Regions from separate parts of the Homo sapiens genome. Here region 1 is linked to region 2. The links come from fine-mapping of genetic effects on gene expression. A gene starts in region 2. The other region holds a variant in brackets. All regions are shown on one strand. Distances are between the middles of the regions.

Region 1 (2,500 bases), 37 kb before region 2:
TGGCCAGGCTGGTCTTGAATTCCTGACCTCAGGTGATCCACCCGCCTTGGCTTTCCAAAGTGCTGGGATTACAGGAGTGAGCCACCATGCCCAGCCTCAAGTTATTCTGTTTAACATGGAGGACAAGAAAGTACAAACACTGGCTATCTATTCCCCGCTCACACACCCAGCTTTGGCGGCATAAGGAGTTGCCTGGAAAATGCCACGATGGAACCAGCTCACTTGGCTCTTCAGCAGCTTCCTGCAGGGGTTCCCATGACTCTACCCATAGGGAACCAGTCCCTACAACCTGCTATTGTGGACTTGGGTGTCCTGGCTCAAAATGTGACCGAGATGAAGGGCCCAAGCCATCCACTGGCAAATGAACTTGGTTGGGAGGGCGTGCAGGGAGATGAACCAATAGAGCCGGAGTTCTTTTGTCCCCTTGGAGGCCTGAAGCTCCTCCTCCTGGCTCCAGAGCAACGGTTGGGCAAGGTGGGTTTGAAGCTGGGGCCTCTGAGAAGCGCGCCAGCGCCCACTGTGGCTGAGGTCGCACCAGCCAGGCTTGGTGTCAGGAGGCAGTGCTAAACAGATAGCCAACACGACATCCTCTCCACCCACTGAAAGAGGCAGAGGAATCCACTTCCAAACTCTACCTTCATATATGCCAAAGAAGAGCAGGGGCGTTCCTTCCCTCAGGAGAGTGTGCTCCTGCTGGCCAAGGGTACCGAGGTTGTGAGCTGCTTTCCTAGATGGGAACACTGTCACCCATGAGGACAGGGGAGGGCCTGGGGGACAGGGTGCAGGACTGAGGGAGGATGAACTAGCCCAGATGCACCCTGGAGGAGTCATAGCCACCAAGTTCACGTGAGATGGGCTACAGCTCCCTGTCGTGGGCTGGGCTCTGGGAGGGGAGCAAGGCAGGAATGTGCTTATACCTTAACCATCAGCAAACAATCAAACTCGAACATCAGTCCCCTTCCTGCCTGGCCTGAGAAACATCTGGGGCCTGGGGGACTGCTGGGCCCGAATCGGGGCAGAAGTGTGTTGGGGGCTATGTGTGGTGTGACCAGGTGCAGGTGCTCCCGCAGTTACCTCGATCAGCCAGGGCTTCAGCTTGTCGTCGATGATGATGTCGTAGCCATAGCATTCAAAGCAGTGCTTGTCATTGTTCATCAC[C/T]GGCTGGAGAGAGAGTGACCAGTGGGTGACATGGCCAGCATCGAAGGGCGCAGCCGAGACCAACGCCACAGAGACAAGCAGGATCGTCCCACGTCCCGACCTCCCACAGCACAGGTTCCCACCCTCCACCACAAACGCTTCCTTCCCTCCTCTCCCTCTTCCTCCCGCAGAGCTCAGAGATTGGGCACTTTCCTCAGCCTGATAGAGGGAATTGATGAAGCCGTAATGGGCATCTCTGCGTCTCACTCATCAGAGGCTTGACTAGCACCCAACCCCTCTGTTGGCGTGAGACTGTCATCAGAGTGAACGGATGTCCAGCTCCAAGCCCAGAACCTGCAGTGAAGGTCTGTGCAGCCTTATCACAGACAAACACAAACTGTCCACCAGGCTGCCCGTTACCCCTTCCCAGGCCCTTAGGGATCCGGGTGCCAGACTATTAACCTCTGTTCCCAGTGACAAAAGTAAATCCATTTACATACAAATTTTTGAATTTCCTTTGTAATTTTCAATTCCATTTCACTTAGATACACCTTAGATTAACTGTTCTCCAGATACATAAATAACACCACCTGAGGCTGGGTGCAGTGGCTCATGCCTGTAATCCCAGCACTTTGGGAGGCCAAGGTGGGAGGATCACTTGAGCCCAGGAGTTTGAGACCAGCCTGAGCAACACAGCGAGACCCCCGCCTCTACAAAAAATAAAAAATTTAGCTGGGTGTGGTGGTATGTGCCATTAGTCCCAGCTACTCGGGACAGCTGGAGGCTGGGAGGAAGAGGAGTGCCGTGAGGAGTGCTGGAGTGCAGTGAGCCATGATCGTGCCACTGCACTCCAGCCTGGGTGACAGAGCAAGAACCTGTCACTTAAAAGCAAACAAACAAAAAAAAGAAAACTGGCTGGGCGCAGTGGCTGATGTCTGTAATCCCAGCACTTTGGGAGGCGGAGGCAGGTGGATCACCTGACGTCGGGAGTTCGAGACCAGCCTGGCCAACATGGTGAAACCCCGTCTCTACTAAAAATACAAAAAATTAGCGAGCCGTGGTGGCGCGTGCCTGTAATCCCAGCTACTTGGGAGGCTGAGACAGGAGAATCCCTTGAACCTGGGAGGCGGAGGTTGCAGTAAGCCGAGACTGCGCCACTGCACTCCAGCCTGGGCAACAAGAGCGAAACTCTGTCTCAAAAAACAAACAAACAAACAAAAAACACAAAACCCCCCAAACCCAGCTGCTTATGATGCAGATTCCTGGGCCCTCCCCAGCCTGCCTGGATTCAACCTCTGGAGACGCACCACAGTTTTACAGGCTCCTCAGAGACTTGTGCACCCTATAGTCAGTGAAGCATAGA
Region 2 (3,012 bases):
TGAGGTCAGGAGCTCGAGACCAGCCTGGCCAACATGGCGAAACCCCATCTCTACTAAAATTTAAAAAATTAGCGGGGCATGGTGGCGCGTGCCTGTAATCACAGCTACATGGGAGGCTGAGGCAGGAGAATCGCTTGAACCCAGGAGGCAGAGGTTGCAGTGAGCCGAGAGCGACCGCACTCCAGCCTGGGCAACAAAGCAAGACTCCGTCTAAAAATAAATAAATAAATAAATAAAGTAATAACAATGTCAGTGATGACTTCATGTTGAGCAGGGCATTCGTTCACAGCGGTATTGTCACTGTCCATCTCCACGCCCGCACTGGGTGACAGTACCATGCTCCACAGTGACTGCTTACCAGTGTCTGTAATTTGAGGGCAGAGAAGGGCCCATCTTTTTTTTTTTTTTTTTTTTTTTTTTTTTTGAGACAGAATCTCGCTCTGTCGCCCAGGCTGGAGTGCAGTGGCGCAATCTCGGCTCACTGCAAGCTCCGCCTCCCGGGTTCACGCCATTCTCCTGCCTCAGCCTCCCGAGTAGCTGGGACTACAGGCCCCCGCCACCATGCCCGGCTAATTTTTTTTTTTTTGTATTTTTAGTATAGACGGGGTTTCACCGTGTTAGCCAGGATGGTCTCGATCTCCTGACCTCGTGATCCTCCCGCCTCGGCCTCCCAAAGTGCTGGGATTACAGGCGTGAGCCACCGTGCCCGGCCGGGGCCCATCTTTTTGTACCGCCACAACCCGGCACCATAATGTGCTCATCAAACGTTTCCTGAGCAAAGAACCTGCTTTGCAAATGCCAAAAGGGCTAACAATGATAAGATACTTTCACTTCCAGAATTAATCTCCTCTAATGCCCCAGCTACTCTATGGAAAAGGATGACTACCCCGCCCTGCCCTCTTAGCTGATAGGGAATCAGAGAGGGGAAATGTCTTGGTCCAGTCATCTAGAGGGAAGACACAAGGCTCTTGTCTCCTGCCCTGAGTTCTCTCCACAGGTACATTGCGCCCTGCAAAAGATGCCAACAGAAACAACACAGATTGCAAACGAATGGGAAACGTGTAGGAACAATGAAAGTCTGGGATAACAAATAATAAACATAATGATGCAATTGCAACAGTCGGACAGCACGAGGTAAGTCATAGGAACTCAGCGGACGGAGAAAGGCACGGTGGTTAGCGCGGGCTTCCTGGAGGACGCGGATCCGGCAAGCAGCATCTGAACCGCATTTTCGCAGCCGCGTAGACACTGGCGCCCACACTCTCTCACCCATGCGCACTCGCCAGCCCGCGCGCAGCCACACCCTCGGTGCCCGGGAGGCGGCGGCCTGGGGGACAGGACCTCACCTGTGGGCTCAGAGCGCCGAGGGACTCGGAGGAGCGCCCTGCAGGGATGCCTCGAGCCGCGCCCTCGCCCCGCCTCCAGCCCCTCTCCGGCGCTCGCAGGAGTACGCAGCCGACTGCCAGGCGCACCGGCCCGCCCCGCCCCGCGCTGCACTCTACTTCCAGGGCGGCGCCCTGGCAACCCAGGACGCGACCGCCGGCGCTGCGACTATTTCCGGAGTCAGACTTGCCTGGGGCTCCTTTGGGCTCCATACCTCGGGCGGCCGCTATGCCCAGGGCTTGGATCCTAGGAAATGCCAGGCCGTCCACCCTCTCGGGGCCCAGAAAGGAGATTGAGAAGGGTCTGGAGCACGGGATTAAGTCTAAAAAGAAAGGTAGAGCGGTGTGATGATTAGGTCCGAATCCTGGGTTCGGTCTCAATCCGCTGTTTAGCCTCTCCTACCCCTTCTACCTCGGCTTCCTTATCTGAAGAAATGGTGATGTTGCGCCACTGCACTCCAGCCTGGGCGATAGAGCGAGACTCCATCTCAAATAATAATAATAATAATAACATAAAAATAAAATAATTTTTTTTAAAAAGTGTTTATCTGGGCCAGACTCGGTGGCTCACGCCTGTAATCCCAGCACTTTGGGAGGCAGAGGCGGGTGGGTCGCGAGGTCAGGAGATCGAGACCATCCTGGCTAGGCTGAGGCAAGAGAATCGCTTGAACCCGGGAGACAGAGGTTGCAGTGAGCCAAGATCGTGCCACTGCACTCAAGCCTGGGCGACAGAACAAGACTCCGCCTCAAAAAAAAAAAAAAAAGACGTTTATTATTCTCGTTATAGACCTGTGTTACCTCGAATTCTCTATACAATTATTCATTTTTAATTTCATCAATTTAAAGAGTTATGCAAACTTGTGCAACTTGTAAGTGACAGAGTCTGGCTTTGAACCCAGGACACCTGACCATTCATGCTGCTGCCTCTCAGGAGGGGTGGTGGTGTGCTTTCTTAGTGATGATTGGAGCTTTGCTAACATCACTTCCTATAATCTCCCACACAACCGCCTCCCAGGCCCAGAGCACATTCAGCGCATCATCATTTACTTTTGGCACCATCTAGTGGAACCAACACTTATCTGGAGTCCAAATTGCCAATTCATACCCTTCAGCTGCTGTCTGGTTGTGAGGCCTTGAGAAGTCCCAAGGCTTCCGACTACAGTGTTCTCACCTTAAACCCAGGAGATGAGTGAAGGCTTGCAAGACGTGGTTAGGGCCTGGCATAGTAAAGTGTTCAATAAACATTGTAGCCTTCCAGCATGTTGCCTCATGCCTGCAATCCCTGTACTTTGGGAGGCCAAGATGGGAGGATCACTTGAGGTCAGGAGTTCCAGACCAGCCTGGCCAATATAGCAAGACCCCATTTCTAAAAAAAAAAGAAAAAATATTTTTAATCAGCCGGGTATGGGGGCGTAGCCAGCAGTCCTACTCAGTTACTCAGGAGGCTGAGGTGGATCACTTGAGCCTAGGAGATTGAGGCTGCAGTGAGCTATGATCCCGCCACTACACTACAGCCTGGCCAACAGAACAAGACTCTGTCTCTTAGAGAAAAAAAGTTAAAAAAAACAACAACAAAAAAAGAATTTTAAGGCAGGGCATGGTGCCTTACGCCTGTAATCCCAGCACTTTG

The links. PIP is the estimated chance that this variant, and not a neighbour inherited with it, causes the effect. A credible set is the group of variants that fine-mapping cannot tell apart.
Region 1: its variant is the best candidate, but not a certain one, in a credible set for the expression of TTLL1 in whole blood (TOPMed, PIP 0.86).

What each region holds. Positions count from the first base shown.
Region 1 is chr22:43,050,727-43,053,226 of GRCh38, forward strand. It overlaps TTLL1 (TTL family tubulin polyglutamylase complex subunit L1), which reads right to left. Exons shown (of 11, transcript NM_012263.5): 9 at 1,075-1,161. TTLL1-AS1 (TTLL1 antisense RNA 1) reads left to right here. Exons shown (of 3, transcript NR_125362.1): 3 at 1,329-1,640. Among named protein-coding and RNA genes, the nearest start is that of TTLL1-AS1, 13 kb to the left of the region's middle. The variant C/T (reference allele first, on the strand shown) is at 1,159.
Region 2 is chr22:43,087,931-43,090,942 of GRCh38, forward strand. It overlaps TTLL1 (TTL family tubulin polyglutamylase complex subunit L1), which reads right to left and starts at 1,461. Exons shown (of 11, transcript NM_012263.5): 1 at 1,347-1,461. RefSeq lists silencers at 1,229-1,568, 1,333-1,627, 2,376-2,435 and an enhancer at 1,333-1,627.